Regions from separate parts of the Homo sapiens genome. Here region 2 is linked to region 1. Evidence: fine-mapped expression QTL. A gene starts in region 1. The other region holds a variant in brackets. All regions are shown on one strand. Distances are between the middles of the regions.

Region 1 (11,930 bases):
TTTGGTAATTCTTGCGTTACTTAAAGCTTTGTCATTATTATTATATCTATTTTGGGGATCTGTGATCATAATATTTAATGTTACTAGTGTAACTGTTTTGGGACATCACAAACCACAACCATATAAGACAATAATTTAATCAATAAAGGCTTTGGGCTTCCCTATTCCCTGAGACAAAACAATATTGAAATTAGGCCAATTAATAACACTCTAACGACCTCTAAGTATTCAAGTGAAAGGAAGAGGTACATGTCTCTCACTTTAAATGAAAAGCTAGAAATAATTAGGCTTAGTGAGGAAGGTATGTGGAAAGCTGAAATAGGTTGAAAGCTAGGCCTCTTGCACCAAGTAGTTAGTCAAGTTCTGAATGCAAAGGAAAAGTTCTTGAAGGAAATTAAAAGTACTATTCCAGTGAACACGAGTGATAAGAAAGTGAAACAGCTTTATTGCTGATATAGAAAAAGTGTGAATGGTCTGGATAGAGAAAATTAAACCAGCCACAACATTCCCTTAAGCTGAAGCCTACTCCAGAGCAAGGCCCTAACTCTCTTCAATTCTGTGAAGGCTGAGAGAGGTGAGGAAGCTGCAGAAGAAAAAAGTTCAAAGCTCGCAGAGGTCGGTTCGTGTTTAAGGAAAGAAGCTGTCTTCGTAACATAAAAGTGCAAGGTAAAGCAGAAAGTGCTTATGGAGAAGCTGCAGCAAGTTATCTAGAAATCTAGCTAAGATAACTGATGAAGGTGGCTACACTAAATAAGTTTTCACGTAGAAAAAACAGCCTTCTATTGGAAGAAGGTATCATCTAGGACTTTCATAGCTGGAAAAGTCAATGCCTAGCTTCAAGCTTCAAAAGACAGACTCTTTTCTTAAGGGCTAATGTAGCTGGTGACCTTAACTTGAAGCCAATGCTCATTAATCATTCTGAAAATCCTAGGGCCCTTAAGAATCATGCTAAGTCTACTCTGCCTGTGCTTGGTAAATGGAACCACAAAACTTGGAAAGAGCATAGTTTACTGAACATTTTAAGTCCACTGTTGAGATCTACTGCTTAGAAAAGAAGATTGCTTTCAAAATATTACTGCTCATTGACTATATACCTGGTCACCCAAGAGTTCTGATGGAGATGTACAAGAAGATAATTGTTGTTCTCATACCTGCTAACCCAACTTCAATTCTGCAGCCCATGGATTCAGGAGTAATTATGAGTTTCAAGTATTATTATTATTATTTTTGAGACAAAATCTGGCTCTGGCTATAAGACTGGAGTTCAGTGGCACTATCTCGGCTCCCTGCAACTTCCGCCTCCCAGGTTCAAGCGATTCTCCTGCCTCAGCCTCCCAATTAGCTGAGATTACAGGCATGCGCCACCACACCCAGCTAATTTTTGTATTTTTAGAAGTGAATGGTTTTCACCATGTTGGCAAGGCTGGTCTTGAACTCCTGACCTCAAGTGACCTGCCCGCCTTGGCCTCCCAAAGTGCTGAGATTGTTTTGAAATAAAGCTGCTATTAAGCAATTCTTCTAATAATGCAACTAACTCCTCTTTATAATTCTATTTTCATTTTAAAATTTAAAATCACTAAGTTGTCACCAGGACAGCCTCAAGTATTATTTTAGAAATAAATTTCATAAGGCTATAGCTGCCATAGTGATTTCTCTGATGGATAAGGGCAAAGCAAATTGAAAACCTTCTGGAAGGGATTCACCATTCTAGCTGCCATTCAGAATATGTGTGACTCATGGGAGGTCAAAGTGTCAACATTAACTGGAGTTTGGAAGAAGCTGATTCCAACCCTCTTGGATGACTTCGAGGGGTTCAAGACTTCAGTGAAGGAAGTTACTGCAGATGTAGTAAAAATAGCAAGAGAACTAGAATTAGAAGTGGAGCCTGAGGATGTGACTGAATTGCTGCAATATTACAATAAAACTTGAATGGAGAAGGAGTTGCTGCTCATGGATAAGCAAAGAAAGTGGTTTCTTGAGACGGAATCTACTCCTCATGAAGATGCTATGAACACTGCTGAAATGACAAAAAAGATTTAGAATATTACATAAATTTAGATGATAAAGCATTAGCAGGTTTTGAGAGGACTGACTAATTTTGAAAGAAGTTCTGTGGACAAAATGCTATCAAACAGCATTGCATGGTACAGAGAAATCTTTCATGAAAGGGAGATTCAATTTATGTGACAAACTCTATCTTTGTCTTAAGAAATTGCCACAACCACCTCCGCCTTCAGCCACCACCATGCTGATCAGTCAGCAGCCATGAATGTCGAGACAAGACTCTCCACTGACAAAAAGATTATGACTTACTGAAGGCTCAGATGATCATTAGCACTTTTTAGCAGTATTTTTAAATTAATGTGTGTATATTTTTCAGAATAATGCTACTGTGCACTTATTTAAATGTAATTACAAGTTATGTTTAGACTATAATTGAGAACTTATGTTTAGAGTATAATATACTGTAAACATAACTTTTACATGCACTGGGAAACCAAAAAATTGGTGTGACTTGCTTTATTGGGATATTTGCTTTATTGTGGTAATCTGGAACAAAACCCACGGTATCTCTAGGTTATGCCAGTAATTTAAAGGTAGGACAAGCAACATGTTCTGATGGCTTGGATATGATGCAAGAAGGACAGAAGTGGATTGAAGTGAAGAATGACTCCAGGGTTTTTGGCCTGAGCAACCAGAACAATGGAGCGCCACAGGGATTGGGCCTAGTGAGGCAGGGAGTTTAATTTTTGACGTGTTTAATTTGAGGTATCTATGAGACACTCAGTCAAATGGGCAAGTCGTTCAGGCAATGTAAAAGCAGAAAAAGAAGGCAGTAGCTAAAGGAGGGAGAATATAAGGTCAAAAGGTTTTGGCTTTACTTTTCAAAGGTGAGAACTAGTAAAGCAAGTTTTTGTGCACATGGAAGTGTTTCCTGGAGAGGAAAGAGGTCATGATGAAGGACAGAGAGAGAAAACTGTTGGAGCCCATGTCTTGAGTAGGTTAGAGGTAGGATCTGCTCCGCCAGTGGAGAGGCTGGCCTTAGACAGGAGTATGGGCAGATGGGCCATCCATTGTATCGAGAGGGAAGGCAAGGTGTGCAGGGACAGATGCAGGGAGACTGTGGAAGTTTTCCTGTGGTTGCTTCTTTTTTCTCAGTGAAATAAGCATGTAGCTCAGCAGCTGAGAGTGCTACATGCTAGCAGATGCATGTAGGAGAGATGTGACAAGAGGTTTTCAGATTGAGCAGAATGTTTGAAATGGTCTAGGACAGTGGTTTTTCAGTTCATAATCTGATAGAGGGTGTTAAAACCAACTTTGTAATTTGAGATCAAACGTGATTTTAAAATGAAAATAGAATTATAAAAAGGAGTTTGTTGCATTATTAAAAGAATTGCTTAATAGCAGCTTTATTTCAGTTGCATGAGTGTGTACTTGCACATATATTGGGTTGTAGCAAAAATACTTTTAAAAATACTTGCCCAGGACAGTGGGAGTAAATGAATAAGGGACTGTCAAATACAAAGTCAAGGTCCTAGTTAATGATCATGAGTCAAAATATTTTCATGTAAAAAACCAAAAAAATCATTGAATGGACTCATAAGATCTTGGCATGGAAACTGCTAGAGGACCATAGTCCCTCCTCAGTATTTGCTGCTCCTTCTCCCTACCCCACTCCACTCTCCACCCTAGGAAACCTTTTCATTTGAATATTTTCAATAAGGGCAAGATCACCAGCTTACAAGATGTCAGAAAGTAACTTTCTGCTCTAAAAAAATGGGGCCCTCACAAAAGTAGTGAGTAGAGGCCCTGGCAGGATTTGGAATTTGGTGTATTTAATATGAAGTTTGACATTATTATGTAATAACAAACTTGATGGCTTTTCCCCGTTTCAGAGAGCTCTAAATCCTCTAAGACAAAACTAGTACCAGAGCACTAAGAAATCTTGTTTTTGTTCAAAACTCTAGCCCAGAAAGGCACCAGTTAGCTTTTAAAAGTATGTGCTCTCTCCTCTTTACTAACTGCGGTGTTAGTGGATAATTGAGCTAAGGTTTATACCTGTATTTTCCCCCTATTTCAAGATTTGTTGTTGGATCTGCAAATGATTCCAATCAAATACAACTGTACTTGGAAAAAAATCATCCGTTGTTAAGACTTTACATTCCTTAGTTGCAGAAGTAGTTTTTTTTCCTGCACAATACCTTTTAAAAAATGAATATTTAATATGTCAATATATACTCTGAAAATAACCATTTATATTTTAAATTCTGAGCTCAGGTTATTTTCTAGACATTGTAATTTAGAATAAAAATACTTCTCCAGTTCTACATTTTGCCTGACTGTTAAAAATGATTTTGAGATTAATAAGTTGAACCAATTTTCTATTCACCTGACCAAATTCTGAACCATTTGAGTTTTTTAAAAAGTACTTTTTCCTTATTGTAAAGGCAACATAAAACTTGGTTCATTGGACAGGATAGCAGAGATAAACATTATACATGAAGTATAGTTCCCTGGGGCAATGTTGCTCTCTTTCTACCATGTTTATTTCGATTTATATAAATTTGAGACACTGAACAGAAGTAGAATTCAAATAGAGAATGAGGACTTATAAAAATGTACACTCTGCCTACATCAGTAAGAGTATGCTAATTTATAAAATTAAATATTTAATCTTAGTTCACTTGTAAACCAAAATCAAGTAAAGTCTGAATCCACCTTCTATTGCTTTGGGGGTTTGAGTCTATATTCTAGGATTCATTTAATAGTTTCATTTCTCTAAGCATCAAGCAAAACAGTTAAAATTACAAAACAGAAACATAAAGTTCACCTCATCATGTAGTATGGATCACTCTGTTATTCTTTATCTAGACCTTCAAATACTTTATGTAAAATGTTTCTATACAAAAGGAAACACAGGATTAGTTCCTCCTCTAATGCTTCTAAAGAGCTCTACCATGGAAAGCTCTCTCCCTTCCATTTTGCAAGTCTCAACAAGTCTGCTGCTGAGTCAGAACCTCCTTTTTTCCCTGATGTAAGAACTATTTCTCCCTTGAAAATTCATAAAGCTTAGGAATAAATTAGAGTCTCCCTGGGGGGAAGGGGCGGGGACGCCGGAATGAATGTGGTGGGGAGGAGTCCCACGCTGCAGCCCTGATGGCACACGAAAGGCTTTTATGAAGCGGAGCTGGCCCGGGGTTACTATGGGAGCTCGCCGTGGAACCCGTTCCACGCATCCGAGTGTGTAAATAACCACGCGGAGCGTGTTTGTTCCAGGGACTTTGTTCCTTCTTACCCAAGTGAAAATGCCTGGAATATAGCCGAGGCTTCATGTTTACCCTACAGAAACACCCTCGGCGGCTCTACGACGTCGGTGACAGCACTCCTACCAGCGCCTAAAAACAGAAACAAGCTTAGAGGGCGCTACCTAGGGCTACAAGGAGGCCCTAGATCGGGGACTCGGGGTCTAGAGGTGCGCGGCGAGGCGCTCAGCGGACTTCAAGCCGGCAGAGCCCAGACGCTAGTTCACCACAGGACCCCCGGGCTGGGCCGGGCTCCCGCGTTGCGCTGGGGGCCCCTCGGGCGCCTATTTCTACGCGGGTCGCACAGTGCAGGCGCCGGTCGGGGTCCCGGGCCTCAGTTTCCCCCGCGGGCCAGCCCCGCTCTGGGAAGCCCGAGTGGTGCAGCAGGGCTTCTCCCCACCCAGGGCGGAACCGAGGTGACAGGAAGGAGGAGGCACCGCGAGGGGCGGAGACGCGTGCGACCCAGGCAGACTCTGCGCGGATCCCGCGCCAAGGAGGGGCCGTTGCCCAGGAACCGTCCCTCCCTCCCGCGCGTGCTTGCCCTCGTGCGCGCGCCCGCCCAATGCTCCCGACCACTGTTTGCCAGCCGACCCCCACCCCAACCGGCCTGTCCATTTCCCCGGGAGCGGAGAGACCCAACGGGACACGCCGCTCGCTCCCGCCCTCCCGGGAGCGCGAGCGCGCCCTCGGCTGCGTCTGCATAGTAATGAGGGGCGGGGAGGGGCGACGGGGACGCGGTGGCCTCGCGCCCGCGCGTGCCGGGACGCACCGCGGGGGGCGGCGCGATTGTGAGGTGGCGCTGACGCACGTTCCGGGGTTCTTAAGCGGCCAGGGCGGCTACGGCGACTGCGACGGCGGCGGCGGCGGCGATCGCCGCGAGGGGTGGTGGGGCCGAAGTCGGTGCCCCCTGGCTCAGTCACGGTGTCCCTCTCTCACTGACTCCCCCTCCTTCCACCACGGCCGCGCAACCCCAGCGCCGGCGGCTTCCTAGGTGGGGCAGGGGACGAGGAGCGTCTCCTCCCGCTGCCGGCGGCCTGATAAATGAGGGATTTCGGGTTTGGGGTGCTGCAGACCGCCCCGCTCCGAAGTAGCAGTCCTGGGCCCCTGTTCTGCGGCGAGGCGTATGGTCCTTACGCCGTGGGGTCCGTCAACCCGCTGCCCTCCGCCACGCCCTTCGGCCCACTGTCGCCACCACCGTTGCCTGTCACCGGCTTCTTAGAGGCCGCCTCCCCCTTCTCCGTCCCCCTCGGCGGCGGCGCGGGCAGCCCGGCCGCCGCCGCTTCCTCTTCCTCCCCGTTCCTGGCGCATCAGCAGACCATGCAGGATGAGCTGCTTCTGGGGCTGACACAGCAGCCGGCGCGGCCGCTTTCGGGGGCGGCGGCCACGGAGAAACTCCCCGACCACCACCCCGGCGGCGGCACGATCGCGGGTGTGACCCACCTCCTCCCCTCCCAGGACTTCAAACCGAGTCTGCACCACCCCTCCTCCTCCTCCGCCTCCTCCTGCTGCTGCTGCCGCACCTCCTCCCCGCAGGACTTCAGTAAGCGGCAGCAGCAGCAGCTGAGCAGCCAGAAGAGGAAAGAGTTCAGCCCTCCCCACCTTCCCCACCCTCCGGACTCGAAGCCGCCGCCGCCGCCTCCGCCGCTCCACTGCCCCGGTCGGTTCAGCCCGCCGCCGCCGCCAGCCGGCCCGCTCCTCCAGCCGGCGCAGCTCGCTCAGCGCCAGCAGCAACAGCCGCCGCAGCAGTTCAGCCTCCTGCATCAGCAGCACCTCTCGCCGCAGGACTTCGCCCCGCGGCAGCGTCCGGCAGACCTGCCCCCGCTCCCGCAGCTCCCTCCCTCGCCGCCTGCAGCCCCGCGGCGCCGCCACGGAGGCGCGGGCAGCCCTCGCAAGACCCCAGCCGCGGGCGAGGGCAGCGCCGCCGAGTCCCCCAATGCGGGCTTGGCCTCCTCGACGCCGGTGAACCCCGCGCCGGGCTCCATGGAGTCCCCCAACCACCCTCTGCTCAACAGTCCCAGTAACCTCCTGCCCGGAGGTGCGCTTGGCGCGGGCGCCTTCAGCAGCCTGCAGAGCCCGGACCTTCCACACCCGGGCGGCGGCGGCGGCGGCGGGGGCGGGGGGCCCCCAGGAGGCGGAGGGGGAGGCGGCTCCGCGTCGCCGCCGCCGCTGCCCGGCTTCGGCACCCCCTGGTCGGTGCAGACCGCGTCGCCGCCACCCCAGCCCCAGCAGCCGCCGCCGACCCAGCCGCAGCAGCAGCCGCCGCCACCCCAGCAGCCGCCCCAGCCGCAGCCGCAGCCGCCCGGCTCGTCTGCCACCACCCCGGGCGGCGGCAGCGGCGGCTCGCTCAGCGCCATGCCGCCGCCCAGCCCCGACTCAGAGAACGGCTTCTACCCCGGGCTGCCGTCGTCCATGAACCCGGCCTTCTTCCCTAGCTTCTCGCCCGTGTCGCCGCACGGCTGCACTGGGCTCAGCGTTCCGACGAGCGGCGGCGGCGGCGGCGGCTTCGGCGGCCCCTTCTCGGCTACCGCTGTGCCCCCTCCGCCGCCGCCCGCCATGAATATACCTCAACAGCAGCCCCCGCCGCCCGCGGCGCCGCAGCAGCCGCAGAGCCGGAGGTCGCCCGTCAGCCCGCAGCTCCAGCAGCAGCACCAGGCGGCGGCCGCCGCCTTCCTGCAGCAGAGGAACTCCTATAACCACCACCAGGTACGGCGGGCGGCGGCCTGGCCGCGCCGCGGGACCGGGAGACCATGGGCGGGGGACGGAGGCGGGGGCAGGGCAGCCGGGGACCCGACCTTAGCCCCGAGAGAAGCCGCGACGGGGGCCACTCGCCCAAGTGAGAGTGGAACTGAGGGCGGACAACCGTGACAGGACTCGGAACCCCAGCCCCCGGTGGGTTGGGAGGGCAGTGGCCACCGTGGGCTGTGGGGGCGTGGGAGACGAGTTCGCGCTGGGAGCCGCGGCTGGCCGGGCGCCCCCTCGAACGTCCCGGCGCAGCAGTGGGGACTGGGGCAGGGGCCGAATAGCGCCGGGGCCGCGGGCGGCCGGGCGCGGCGTCTCAACCCGGCCCTCCTAGCTGGCGCACCCCGGGATCCGCCCTGTGCCCTGGGCCTGGAGGGCCGCCGCCCCGGACCCCCGACGCGGGGAGGCGCGGCGAGGACCGGGGGCTGGCCGGGGGCCTCGGAAGAGCGGCCGTGGGAAGTGAACTTGGGCAGGGGAAAAATGATTGCTGGAGAAGGTGCGTGCGGAGGAGCCCAAGACTCTGTCTCGCTGTCCAATGAGGGAAGGCGGAAAGGCTTTTTTTTTTCTTTGGAGTTTGTTTATTCTTATTTGGCCGGCGGTGATCTCGCCTTGAAGCCTCAGCCCCTCGGGCGGTCAGTCGAGCCGCTCCCAAAGCTCCGCCCGATCAACCTGCTGGCAGCGCCGCACCCTGGGCCGCCGGCCCAGGAGGGAGTCGGGAGGGAGCGGCCGACCGCCCTCCTCGCAGGACCTGGTTCCCGCGGGGCCGCCTCCTTGGCTGTCACAGGACTGGGAAAGAGAAACTGTTAGTGACCGCTCGGGTTCAAACCGAGATATCCCACGAATGTCTTAGTTTCTGTGCTTTTCAATGTTGGGGTCATGTTTTGTGGGTTTTAAGACAAAACTGAACTTGGATCTGGGATTGGTGTGTTTCCTCGTAGACTTTCGGTACATTTTTTGGTTGCCTTAACCTTCTACAAGGGAATATGTGGGCCGTGTGTATTTTAAGTAGGTAATATTGTGAAATGACACTGGGCAGAATTTTTATTTTCCGGATCTTTTTTGATTCAAGATCTTTTTTGTTATTCCCTCAATACAATTTTTGGGTGACCGCTAGATTGGTAAATTGGCATTGAAAGAGTGTCTTGTTGGTTTTGAATCTTGTTAGCATTTGTTGCAGAGTTCATTCTGTTTAAGTCCATTTTCTATTTTCGTGATTAAGGATTGACAGAGACGCAAAATATGACCTTAACCCCATAACTTTTTCAGTTGACCAAAGTTTTCAAGGATTAGTCTTTTTAAAGTGAATATTATCTAAATTAACCCAAGTGAAAGTTAACAGTTTATCTAAGTTAACCAAAGTGACAGTGAACAGTTTTTGTTGAATCACTGATTTCTTTCTTAGAAAAGAGAATGTGGCCTATGAGGATTGAAAATAGGGATTTTGAAATAATGTTCCACTTTTTCATGATTTTTATAACCCTCAGCAACTGTCTTTTGTGTCTCAGGATCTTCATTTTGTTATCTGGAAACTTGCCCACAGAAAATTATCTGTAGGTAATTTTGTATTTACTTAAAGTTGTGGTACAGAGCGTTGGAAGAACATATACCATGATCCATATTTAACTGTAATTTGCTTTTGGACAAAAGATGGGTCTAGCCATGGAGTGTGAGAGGTCACACAGCTTTCATATGGAATTTTAGATCACTGGAAGATAACTTTGAGCATTAAATCATTTAATAAGGAGAGTAAGGCCCTCAAGAATGAAGTGGTTTGTCCATGGCTCTGTAATTATGCTTTGGACCTCTGTGGAAGAGGAAAGAGTAATAATATACTCATGATTATGTTAGCATTTAAAAGTGTTTAAAAATTGGTGCTGTAGATCAGGAGTTTCTCTTTTAATTGTCTTACAAAAAGCAGGTTCAATTTTAAGAGAACCATATTTATTTGTAGTAACTGTATGGTTCATACTTCTTTAGCTACATCTTAACACCAAAGTATTAAAGTATAAACTTACTGACAGTAGAATTACCAGCAATGAATACTTCTTAAAAAAAAAAAAAACCCAAAACTACAATTATTAGCGTTTTGATGGATTTACCATTCTTTGATGATTTGACTTGTCTTGCCACAGGTTTGAGATTAGGATGTAATTTACTTTTGAAAATGAATCAACTTGATGGAGACTTGTATCAAGATCTCTAGTGGAATAATCAAAGCATATAGTTAATTAGCAGTATACCTCAGTGGATCCACCTATGGGCAACATCAGATAATTGCTTCACAGTTTATGGATAATTAAGTGAAATAAAAACAATTAAGACAAACTATGCTAAAACTGGAATAAAATGCCTTAACAGTTAAATAAACAATGCAGAAAAATGACATAGTTTCTATACTGTCCTTATTTCAAAAGGCGATTTTAATTTGTACAAGAGTAATTCCCACTTTTGTAGTAGTGCAACTTGTTTTGGAAACATAAAGTCTATATATTTCACTTGTATGAGTAGGATATTTTAATTAACAAAGACCATATTTTTAGTTGTGTGCCTAGCATAATTAATATGGTTGCTTTAAGATCACCATGTATGTTATATCTTTAAGAATCTTCAGAGTTAATTTCAATTTTTTTCTTCATATTTATCATGTATACAGTTATCTCTGAAGGATAAAAAGGAACTGCATGGTTCTATTTTAGTAACTGTCATAAAATATCATGATATTTATAGTATACAAGAAGATGAAAACTTGACCAGCATCAAATATGATTTCACATAGAAAGATCTCAAGACTGTTACTTTTATAACCTAGAAAAGATGTATTCTTTTGCCTTTATATATTTCATTCATATAAATTCTTAGGTCTGAAATTTGAATTTGAATTTGAATTGTAAATTCTTTAAATGCCGCAATTTAAATAGCTATGTTTTCCCTAGCCTCTTCTGAAACAGTCTCCCTGGAGCAACCATCAGAGCAGTGGCTGGGGCACTGGAAGTATGTCCTGGGGAGCAATGCATGGCAGAGATCATCGTAGAACCGGAAACATGGGAATCCCAGGAACTATGAATCAGATATCTCCATTGAAGAAACCGTTTTCTGGTAATGTCATAGCACCACCGAAATTTACTCGCTCAACTCCATCACTGACTCCAAAATCTTGGATTGAAGATAATGTGTTCAGAACAGACAACAATAGTAATACACTCTTACCCTTACAGGTAAGAATGGTATGTAAATGACCTTATCTCTAATGTTAATCTTTCAAAATAGGGAGTTGGGTGGTGGTGGTAGTGGTATGCTAAAATTAACATTTTTTGAAATAAAGTTTTAATTTTTAAGCATGTAATTTAATTAACAAAGGTTAAAATATCTATACAGAGAAAATTGAGAATGTAAAATAATTCTCTAAACACGCAATGGAAAATAAGCTTAGTAAAACGTAGAAAAACCTTTTGTATTTATTAAATACATACTGAAGCTTTCAATTAGCAGCTCTTTAAGAATGCTTTAATTTATAAATTCTAATGGGCCACCAAAATTTGTTTCTCCTTTAATATAGCTAAGCTAATATGTTCTGTAATTGTAACTGTTCTTAGAATTGACTATAATTGGCTGTATATATATTAGAATATACTTAGTACAGCTGTGATTGTGGCAAAATAATATTAGGGCTTTTTTGCATCTAATTTAAATTTATCTTCACTAATTCACCGATTATTTTTTCTAAATGTGGCCTAATACGTTGATTAGACTTTTTTTTTCTTTCAGTATTTTTATTATTTTCTTGAAGTTCCCTTATGGCTATTGCAAGTGAGGTTTTTGTTTTGTTTTGTTTTTTTCTTAAACCTTTAGAGGATGGAATGAGGATTTAAGATAGAGCTTTATTTTTTG
Region 2 (11,930 bases), 74 kb after region 1:
GTAATTTAACTCTGTAATGGAATAGTTTGCTGCCAACTATTTATATTAAGTAATTTTTAAATATTTGTAATATTGTTGACTGACTAATAAACTATTAAGTTATTGGCATAGTTGTGGAATCTTATTCTTCGGTTCAAATCAAGTAAAATATTCAAAAACACCAGTAAGATCTTATTTAGAGAGAGAGCTTAGTGACATAAATATATTATGATGCCCAGGCCAAACTACATTTCAGTACAAGGATAGAGGAGAAGCCTTGGAGACCATGTTGTCTAGTATCTCTCAGTATTTCAGCCCTGAGTCCTCTTGTGTCAGTTCTCCCACCCTCATCCCCCATATATCATAGAAATTTCTGTGTTACAGTCATCACTTATAATTAATATTGCCATATCTAAGTTGATGCTGCATTCAAAAAATGAGGAACTGTTAATCATGTTGCTAAATGCACAGTTTTCATGATACTTTCTCAGATACCCTCTAGTTGGGAATCACTTGTAGTGTTTTACTTGTTCTTTGCACAGCCTGTGTGGATTTTTCAGTGTCTACTTTGAAGAGGGAGGGAGAAGGAAAAGAAGTATAGAGTAAGGAGCCTGGAATCTAGGTTCCTCATCCTAATTATAACTAGAACAGCTCTACTTTTAACTTTAACAAAGCTGAAGTTCTACCTAAAAATTGGTATGCAGTCACTGGGCAGAAGGAGGAAAGGATTCCATTGCATTTTCAGAAAATGAAAGATCACTGATCATAACCAAATGTTTTGTTTTACCTATAAGGACATAGGTATGTCAGAAAGGGTAAAACTTAATGTTTCCTCATCTTCTACAAGACACCATAGAAACTCCTTAAATGGGCTAATCTTGCCATTGTATGCCCTTCATATTGTGTCACTGTCACCCATGTCCTCCAAGCAAATCATGCATCTCTACATATCTGTATCTTGTTTAGCATATGCTGCCATTTTTCTATTTGGAATCTATTTTCTCTTTCCTCAACAAAGTCCTCTTTCATAATAAAACTAAAGAGCCGCCTCCACATTCTGGCCTATCTAAGACAACAGGAATTTCACAGTGTCTTAATTCCCTTGCTACTGACATAAAGATCATTTTCTTATGCTCCCCTTTCCCTCGGTTATTTAAGAAAAGAATAAGCTTTGAATACCAACTTAGTACTGAACACCGACTTTGTCAAATCTTTGCTCACAAGGTCTCATAGCCTTGAAGGTGAAAGGCCAGGCTAACTCAAATGCAATGCAGTATGCTAATAAAAGATAAAATACACTTTCATAAACATGTATAAAGCATGAAAGGAAGGAATATTCTTCTTAAGTAATTTCATTTCCTTGAAATGAAATTACTTAAGAACTTTTACATAGGGGATAGCATTTGACTTAAATTTTTCCATGAACAAAGAATTAAAAGATACAAAGATTAGCACTCACAAATCCTTTCTAAAAGAGTTACTTAAAGATCTATTTCACCAAAAAGAAGGAATGATAATAAAATACCCAGGAAACATGAAGACATGGGATACTACATAGGTAAAAAATATCGCTCTAGTGTATAGTTAGGAAACGAAATGTGGCTAAAAAGCTTCACACAATTTAGAAGCAAGTCCAAATAAAGTCATAATTTAAAACATCGATGTTAAAATAATAACTAAAACTCAAGGTAATTTAAAGCAAAACCTGGATGAACATTTGAAATGAAGAAGAAAGCCTTGTTTGGGATAGAAGAAGATAAGACTATAGATGTTGATTAATTTATTATTAATACTAAATTGTCTTCAAATTGCAATATATGTAATTTTTAAATGCATTTAATATATATTTAAATGTAACATTTTAAATATTTTAAGTCAAATACACAAATTATGAAAAAGATAAAACCCCACCCACCCTTTCCTCATCTACAATTTCCACTCATAAAAGGCAACTTTTAACTCTTTTTAAGTGTTTTCACTTTAACAGTATCATGTTATTTGCCTTATTATATCCAAATAGCACACTTAACAATGTTTATTTTTCAGTTTAAGACATTGCTGACCTCCTAAAATGACTGCATATTTTAATTCAGACATCCCCCATGTATGCACACACACACTCAGAGTGTTCATTTTGTGAATAATTTATCACGCTGATGATTATTTCCTGAGCACTTTTCTGTATATTTTACACTTCACTAATAAAATTTATTTTAAAAAGGAAAATGGAAAAGAAAACAATGCTTGCTTCAATAGCAGGATAAGAGAGTGAGGAACATAGGAAGAAATACAAAAACAGAATCAAAGAGATTTTTCATGGTAACTAAATTCTAGGTCTATAGGCTGTTTTTAAAACCATTTTGTGCAATGTAATGCACATATAGAAAATGAATTTCCTATCAGTTCACATTATGAATAATTGTAAAACTTGTTGAGAAATAGAAAACTTTTCTAAGCGGAGACTCAACAGGTTTCTGTACATCTATGTTCATAGCAGCATTAGTCACAACAGCCAAAAGGTGGAAGCAACCGAAATGTTTGTCAATGGATGAATGAATAAACAAAAAGGAGTATATGCATACAATGGAATATTCAACCTTAAAAAGGAAGCCTTGAAAATTCTGATACATGCTACAACATGGTGGAAGCCTGAAGACATACTGGGTGATATAAGCCAGTTGCAGAAGGACAAACACTGTATGATTCCATTGCATGAGGTACCTAGAGTGCTCAAATACATAGAGAAAGAATAGTGGTTGCCAGGGGCTAGGGGAAGCGGGCAATGGGGAGTTATTGTTTGGCATAGAATTTCATGTTGAGATGAAAAAAGTTCTGGAGATAGATGGTGGTGATGGTTATGCAGCAATGTGAATGTACTTAATGCATATATATATGTAAAAATAAGTATATGGAGATGTGAAGAATAAGACAAGGTGTTTATGGTCAATTCTAGGAGTACTCTGATAATTTCAATGACATTAAAATAAGGGAGATGTGTGCAATAGGCCACAAGAACACAGAAAATAAGTAATAATTTAAAGAACAAGTGAATAAAGAACATTTCCTGGAAGAAATAAAAACTGAGATTAGGCATGAAGAATATGTGTTACTTAACCAAAAGAAAAAAGTGATAAGAGATTTTAGGGAGAAGAAAGAGTTTGAACAAAGCTCAAAACAACCTGTAGGGTGTGTCTCTAGAGCGTAAATTCCAAAGCCCGGCATGGCAGATAATGAGGTTAGAGATCTAACTGTGCAGATTATGGAACTTTTCAAGACCAACTTCCCTGCCATCTCCTCTAGGAAGCTTCATTTCAATTAGCTTTCTCTCTACCCTACACTCACTGGAGCCGGGATCTACCATTTTCTCCTCTCAAAGAAGAAAATACATTATGTTAGTACTTGGGCCTCACATGACAAATGGCAGGCATGTGGTGATACTATCAAGACACAGATAGTCATATGATAAGTAGTGGCGCTGTGTGTCAAAATAAGCTCTACTGCAAATCACAAAATTATTGTCTTTATTGATAAAACTTCAACAATAATTGTTAAAGTTAGCCTTACCTAATATATAGAACATATGTCTGTATGATTTGAAACTTTAAGTACAACAGACAACTGAGATTTTTTTAATGACGCCCTTGAACATATCATATAATACTGTTATTTTAACGCCCAACTTTACTGCCATTTGAAAAGTATTTTCTACCAAATAGTGAATCTACCTGTTCAATTACCTCTAAACTGAATACTTCCCAAGGAATGCCATCAGTTGAGTTAGATATTGTTAGTGATACAACCTTCCATCCAGTTTTTCTGCTTCTTTTCTTGTGAGCATCTAAGTCAGTATGCTAAACTATTTGTGTGTGAATCAGGATTTTTCTATATGTTGTGTAAATACAAAACAAATATGGAAATAAACTGTACACTAAGGCCAGTAAGCCAGCGGTGAAATAAGAGTGATAAATAATCCTTTGTTGTAGTAAGACAATGAGATTTCAGGGCTAATTTATTACTGCAGCAAGACCTAGTCTAGCTTGACTAACAGTTGTCATATAACACAAAATGGAAAAATGGAAAGTAAGTAAATGGCAGGGCCAAGATCCAAACCTAGTTCTAACTACACCAATGGTTCTCAAATCTATGCTGATTGTTTCTTAAAACATATATTCCCGAAGTTCCAGTCACAGATATATTTATTCAGTAGGCCTTGAGTGAGGCCCAGATGAATATATTTTTAACATGTTCCCCAGGTGATTCTACTGTACAGGCAGGGTCAGGAGCCATCGGACTATGCCACACCACACTGCCCTGCCTTACTGTTCCCATCATCATACTCATGTTCTTGTAAGAGAAGCATGGCTGCTCTTGACCTTTGAGGGAAAATAATGTCTAGAAAGGGAAAAGCTTGGAGAAGATATGTTAGAAAATTATAAAATCAGAAAAGCGGCAAACCGATATACTAGAAAGACAGTGAACTGGGAGCTGCATATACAGTTAGAAAAAGGAATTTCTATTCTATCCTTGCCCTATAGGAGCTAGAAAATCTTGAGAAAGTCTATTAAGCTTACTGGGCATCAGTGATACCTACTATACAGAATTGCTATGCAGATTAGGGATTATGTATGTAAAGCACCCAGTGTTCTCTCTGGCACATAGATACACTTGATAAATATCAGCTTTTTCCCATCCCTCTCCTGCCTTCTAGAACCATCACATTGGCTTTCACTTCCCGTATCTAGCAGACTGGAATAGAGACACATTTAGAGGCAACAACAACAACAGCAGCAGCTCTCAGCTTCTTCTGGGGTGCAAGGAAAGAGTTGGGGTATGTGTCCAATGTTTGAAAGTTTTCCAGGGGCTTCCCAAAGGACTAGTTTCTGTCTTACCTATTGCAGAGTGCTGATAGGTCTTGGCATACTCTAGAGGCTTAGAGGCAAGTGAGAACAAAGACAATGGTTTGAACTAGCATGGAAGCAGCCACAATAGCCCTTCCCCATGCCTCAGAGCACAACGCAAGCAGATGATACATCTTAGATGCTAGCATTTCCCTGAGGAAGGAAAGAATTGGCCCGCACATCCAAAGTTCCAATTTTTCAGGTACTGCTTGAGGCTTCTGTCTCACCTGTCTGAAAGCAATGACAGGGCCCAGCATACTTTAGATGCTTGGGGTCTACTAAAGGACAAAGATGATGATTTGGACTGGCATAAAAGTTTGAGAGGCCCCCCAACATATCTGGCCAGAATGATTGGTGAAAGTCTTCTCCTGTATAAGGCCACTCCGTGAAGATGAAGAGAGTTGACTGTTTTATCTAATACATAGATACCAACACAAAAAGTCAAGGAAAATGAAAAACAATACAAAACTGAAAACTATGTCCTCCAGAAGGGAACAAGATACAGCTTCAGAAAGTGGCCCTAATGAAATGGGAGATATATTGCTAATAGAAAATTACTAATAGATAATTCACAATAACTGTTATAAAGATGCTTAATGAGGTCAGGAGAATAATGCATGAACAAAGGAATTATTACAATAAAAAAGTAAAGTACCAAACAGAAATTTTGAAACTAATGAATGAAACATTTGAACTAAAAAATAAAAAATTAGTAAACTTGAAGACAGATTGTGAAAATGTTTTTGTCAGAGGGACAAACGGAACAAAGAATGAAAAAGAGGAAAGAAAGCTTAAGGGAAACAATATACACATTATGGGAGTCTCAGAAGGATCAGAAAGGGTAGAAAGTGTATTTAAAGAAATAATAACTGAAAACTTCTTAAATCTATGAAAGAAATGGACATCCACATCTCAGCAGCCCAAGGACTCCCAAATAAAATAAACCCAGAGAGATCCACACTGAGACACAATGTAATCAAATTTTTAAAAGTCAAGGAGAATTTTGAAAATAGCAAGAGAAAGCTTGTTATATCTAAGGAAATATACATAACAGTATTGGCAGATTTCTTAGCAGAAATCTTACAGCCTAGAAGGCAGTGAGATGATATATTAAAAGTGCTGAGAATGAAACTGTCATCCAAGAATAC[T/C]ATAACCAGCAAAACCTGTTCTTCAGAAATGAAGGCATGATAAAGACTTTCCCAGACAAACAAAATCTGAAGGAATTCTTCACCAATAGATGTGCCTTACAGAAAATGTTAAAGGGAATTCTTCAAGTTGAAGAGGAAGAATGCTTAACATCTATTAAAAAGCATATGAAACTATATAACTTCATGGTAAAGGTAAATATATATACAGATTGAAAATACCATGACATGTAATATGATAGGTAAATAAGTTTTAGTTTGTTTAGAGGTTAAAAAGGCAAAAACAGTAAAAATAACTATAACTATAAAATATGTTAATGAATAAACAATTTTAAAAGATATAAATTGTAATATCAAGAACAAAGTGTGGGGAGAAGAAAAGTAACAGTGTAGAGTTTCTGTATGGAGTTGATACTAGCCTGAAATAGACTATTATAACCATAAGATGTTTTCTGTAAGCCCCATGTAACCACAAAGAAAACACCTATAAAATATGCACAAAAGAAAGTAAAAAGTAAATTTAAAAAAGTAAGTAAAAAAGAATCAAAGCATATCAATACAAAAAAAAAATCAACAAAGGAAAACAGCAAGAAAGGAAAAGAACACAAGAACCAAAAGACAGAAAACTAGAAAATGGCAATAGTAAGTTCTTCCCTATGAACAATCACTTTAAAGGTAAATGAATTAAATTCTCCAATTATAAATGGCTGCATGGATAAAAATAAAATTAATAAAATATAGGAACTTATTATATGCTGTTTACAGGAGACTGACTTTAGATTTAAGAACATATACAAACTGAAAGTGAAGAGATGGAAAAACATTCCATGCAAATTGTAACCAAAAGAGAGTAGCATGCCTATGCTTATGCTAGACAAAATAGACTTTGAGACAAAGCTGTCACAAAAGGTCATTATATAATGATAAAATAATTATTAAGGAAAATGTAACAATTTTAAATATGTATTCATCCAACATTAGAAGTATCTAAATATATGAAGCAAACATTGACAGAACTAAGGGAAAAACAGCAATAGTAGGATACTTTAATACCTAACATTTAACAATGAATAGAAGTTCCATATGGAAAATCAATGAAGAAACAGAGGACATAAACAATACTGTAGACCAAATGAATCCAAGAGACATATATGGAATATTCCACCAAACAGCAGAAGAATACACATTTTTTTCAAGTGCTGAATTAATTACATGTTAGGTCACACAGCAAATCTTAACAAATTTAAGAAGACTGATCTCATACTAAGTATTTTTTTCTGACCACAATGAAATGAAACTAGAAATCAATAACTAAAGAAAACTGGAAAATTCACAAATATGTAAATTAAACAAGACACTCCTGAACAGCCAGTGAATCAAATAAAAAATCAGAAGGGAAATTTGAGAATATCTTGAGAAAACTGGAAATGGAAACACAACATACCAAGTCCTTTGGACTGTAACAAAATCAGGAAAAGGAAATTATGCAGCAATAAGCACCTACATTGAAATAAGAAAGAACTCAAATAAACAGCATAGCTTTGTACCTCAAGAAAGTAGAAAAAGAACAATCTAAGCCCAAAGTTAGAAAAAAGAAAGAAAGAAAGATTAAAGCAGAAATGAACACAATAGAAAACAGAAAACCAATTAAAAAAAATAAAACTAAGAGTAGGATTTTGAAAAAGATCAACAAAATTGACAAACCCATAGCTAGAATTGAAAAAAAAAAAAAGAGAGAGAGAGAAGACTTAAATTAAAAAAATCAGAAATGAAAGAGGAAACATTTTACCTGATGCCATGGAAATAGGATCAAAAGAGGCTACTATGAACACTTATACACGAACGAATTGTATAACCTAGAATAAACAGATAAATTACTAGAAACATACAACCTACTAAGATTGGATTATGAAGAAATTAAAAACCTGAACAGATCTATAATTAGTAAGGAAATTGAATAAGATGGCTTCACTGGTGAGTTACACCAAACACTTTTAAATAAATAGATGACTTAGGATTATGCAATTCTTTTTATAATTTTTGACCCTTTTTTTGTAACTTTTAAGTTCAGGGATACAAACCTTGTACAAACAAGGTTTGTTACATAACGTAAACTTGCGTCATTGTGGTTTGTTGTAGAGATGATTTCATCACCCACATATTAAGCCTAGTACCCCATTTGTTATTTTTCCTGATCCTTTTCCTCCTCCCATCCTCCACCCTCCAAAGGGCACCAGTGTATGTTGTTCCCCTCTAAGTGTCTATTTTCTCCTCATTTAGATCCCACTTATGAGCACATGTGGTGGTATCCCAAGAGAAATCTAACCGATTTTGTAGTGTGACTATTTCAGATTCTGTTCTGATTTTTATCACTTAAATTCCTAGGAATGAGAAGACATGATAATAAAAAATATTATTCAATTATTAAAAAATTAATGCCAATCCTTCTTAAACTCTTCCAAAAACTTCAAGAGGAGGGGAAGCTTTTAAACTTATTTTATGAGGCCAGTATTACCCTAATACCAAAGTCAAAGACTCTTCAAACAAAATGTGGTATATATATACAATGGAATGTTATTCAGCCTCAAAAAAGAAAGAAATCCTGCCAAATGTGACAACATGATGAATCTTGAGGACACCGTGCTACATGAAATAAGTCAGTCACAAAAGAACAAATATTTATATGAATTTCCAAAAATAGTCATAGGGGCAAAGAGTAGAAGGGTGGTCTCCAGAGTTTGGGGAAAGTGGAAAATGGGGAGTTGCTGGGCAGTGAGTATAAAGTTTTAGTCATGCAAGGTGAATGAGTAAGTTCTAGAAATCTGTTGTGCAATATCATGACTGTATTGAACAATATTGCATTGTACACTTAAAAATTTGTCAAGAAGATAGATATGTTAAATGTTCTTACCACAATTTTTTAAATTACTGGAGAAATTATAGGGTTTTTTTTAAAGAAAACATCCTACTTGTTAAATTAAGTGTTTCTTTGGATGTTAGTTGAGTTTGGTGTCTTTCTTTCATATTGCTTTCTTCAAATATTTGATGTATTCATTTTCTGTTGCTGTGTAACAAACTACCACAAATTTAGTAACTTAAAACAAAACGCATTTACTAGCTCACAATTGTGTAGGTCAGAGGTCTGGGGGAACATGACAGGGTTCTCTGCTAAGGACGTCACGTGGCCAAAATAAAGATGACGGCTGGATTGGACTCTTGCCTGAAGACTGTGGGAAATAAGGTACTTCCAAGAGCATTCAAATTTCAGCAGAATACTGTTTCTTGCATTTGTGCTTTTGAGATGTCTGTTTCTTTGCTGTCTGGTGGCAAGGGGCCACTCTCATCTCCTAGGACTGACCACACTCCTGCTAACGTTGCTTCCTCCTTCAAAGCCAGCAAAAAATGTGTTGAATTTTTCTCAAGTTTGGAAACTTTCTGTTCTGCAACCAGCCAGCGAAAATTTTGCTTTTAAACGGCTCAGCTGATTGAGTCAGGCCCACTGGATAATCTCTGTATTATAGGATCAACTGACATGTAGCTTTAATTACAGCTGCAAAATTTCCTCATAGCAGTACCTAGATCAGTGCTCAATTGAAAAATAAGAAATGGGAATCTTGGGAGACCATCTTTAGAATTCAGTAATTACATGTGGTGTTCCTGGGCTGAATTGAGAATTATTATTGCTATCAGAAGAGTCAGGTTCAGATTATAGGCTTTCACCACTAGGAATTGTCGGACAGGGATGGAACCAGCAGCTAAACAGGTAGCCCTGCCATATATTTGACATAGAAACTTCTGTTTTTAAAAAGTTATGATTACTATATGCCATTTATTAAGCATTTCCTCATTCATGTGCAAGATCTTCATTATTTTTCTTCCTTTTTCTTTTCTTTAGTTTTTCTCTTTTTATTTCTTCCTTTCTATTTCTTTCTTTTTTCCCCTTGTTCAAATTATACTGATGATGACATGTAAATCATTAACCATTCTACAGGAAATAAACCATAGCCCTTACTTATTTAAAGTGACTTTATCAATTATTTCAGATGAGAAGGAAACTGAGTTCCAAGAAGGGAGAATGACTGGTTTGAAGTTCCAAGGCTGTTTGGTGGATGAGCCAAAATGGGAGCCCCAGAGTCTTTGTCCAGTGCTTGCCTTCCCCCCAGACCATGAGAAGCCACTCCACTGAACTTTTTGAAATGTCATCATGCTGCCTGAGAAACTAAAATTTTGGTGGCTCGCAATGATGTCGTTACTCAAAGTGGTGCAGGCATTTCTCCTACAGAGTGACTTTTCACGATCTGAATTAGACACAATGCAGTATATTAATTTGGAGACTTATTTTGCATTACGTAATCTGCTATTGATTAAAATGAACCATTGAGCAGTTTAGTCATGAAGAAAAATGCTGCTTCACATGCAGCACAGTTGTTTCGTTTGGGTGTCCCTGAACTTTCCAAGACCATAGCAAACTCTTTCCTCCTCAAGGACTTTGCATTAGCTGTTCCCTCTGCTTGGAATGCTCTTCCCCCAGGTCTTCTCTGTCTTCAGATCTCAGATTTCATGAGGCCTTTCCTGTCCATGCATTCTGAAGCGAGCCCTTCCTGTTAACTTCCCTCTCGGTGTCTTACCTAGTTCCTTTATCACATATCAAAATCTATAATTATTGTATTGATTTGGTTGCTTACATGTATCATGTCTGTCACTCCCACTAGATTGGAAGATGGGAAGATTCTTGAAGTCAGAATTCTTACCCTTCTTAGTCACTATGACAGCCCCAACATTTAGAACAATGCCTCATGCAGAGCAGAAATTTTTGATAGACAATTGCTAAGTAGATAAAAACAGATGGTAAGAATGTATAACAACAGCTAGTAGTGACAGAAAAAGGAAAGAGATTGTTTTTGAGAGAAAAGCTAGGTGGAATCAAATGCCATATTTGTTCAGTTATGTTTCATTTTTATAGCTATATGTTTTTAGTTAAAAAATACTCATTAATAAAATTCCTACAGGGGAAAAACAACTTTGTTATTGGAAGTCTGAAAAACTTCAGTACCTTATTTCTTCTTCCCATCGAAGTAATTACTCCTATAATGCACTTTTTTGGGGTTTTTTTATGTTTTCTTAGAGACAGTGTCTAACTCACTCTGTGTCACCCAGGCTAAAGTGCCGATCTCGGCTCACTGCAACCTCTGCCTCCCAGGCTCAAGTGATTCTCCTGCCTCAGCCTCCCAAGTAGCTGGGATTACAGACATGCACCACCACGCTTAGCTAATTTTTGTATTTTTAGTAGAGACAGTGTTTCACCATGTTGGCACTTTTTTGGATATGAGATTTATTAAGACTCCCATTATTGCAGAATGGAGTATAATGCACATTCATTTCCTTCAAAACTCACTCCCCTCTTCTATAACAAATTTAAAAGTTCTCTGGATTTTAGTTGTCTCCTGAATATAGGGACCAGAGTGTTCATTCAAGGAGGCTTGCCTCTTATTTCAAATCGGTCTCAATATCTTATCTCATGAGTTTGCGGCATCAGTTGGCCACATATGAGCCCATCTCACCACACTTCAGCAAAACTCTTTACACAATACCTGTTGCAATAAAAGATGGTGTGTAAGTTTTCATTTTCTAACTCAAATAATCTAACTCCAGAAACTTATAGAGAACTGTTTGCCTTTTTTCTTTTTTTTTTTTTTTTTTTTTTTTTTTTTTTGAGACAGAGTCTTGCTCTGTAGCCCAGGCTGGAGTGCAGTGGCGCGATCTCGGCTCACTGCAAGCTCCGCCTCCCAGGTTCACACCATTCTCCTGCCTCAGCCTCTGGAGTAGCTGGGACTACAGGCGCCCGCCACCACGCCCGGCTAATTTTTTTGTATTTTAGTAGAGACGAGGTTTACACCATGTTAGCCAG

What was found. PIP is the estimated chance that this variant, and not a neighbour inherited with it, causes the effect.
Region 2: its variant is fine-mapped to the expression of CPEB2 in whole blood (TOPMed, PIP 0.99).

What each region holds. Positions count from the first base shown.
Region 1 is chr4:14,996,330-15,008,259 of GRCh38, forward strand. CPEB2 (cytoplasmic polyadenylation element binding protein 2) reads left to right here and starts at 6,152. Exons shown (of 12, transcript NM_001177382.2): 1 at 6,152-8,006; 2 at 10,976-11,257. The coding sequence starts at 6,345. It overlaps CPEB2-DT (CPEB2 divergent transcript), which reads right to left and starts at 5,716. Exons shown (of 8, transcript NR_038857.1): 1 at 5,609-5,716; 2 at 5,297-5,396; 3 at 4,832-4,900. C1QTNF7-AS1 (C1QTNF7 antisense RNA 1) reads right to left here. Exons shown (of 6, transcript NR_125911.1): 5 at 10,142-10,241; 6 at 8,613-8,828. RefSeq lists enhancers at 5,141-5,190, 8,032-8,598 and silencers at 5,431-6,290, 6,791-7,100, 7,151-7,300, 7,401-7,610, 7,991-8,590.
Region 2 is chr4:15,070,044-15,081,973 of GRCh38, forward strand. The region is part of intron 2 of C1QTNF7-AS1 (C1QTNF7 antisense RNA 1); the gene reads right to left. It overlaps CPEB2 (cytoplasmic polyadenylation element binding protein 2), which reads left to right. Exons shown (of 12, transcript NM_001177382.2): 12 at 1-108. Among named protein-coding and RNA genes, the nearest start is that of CPEB2, 74 kb to the left of the region's middle. The variant T/C (reference allele first, on the strand shown) is at 6,026.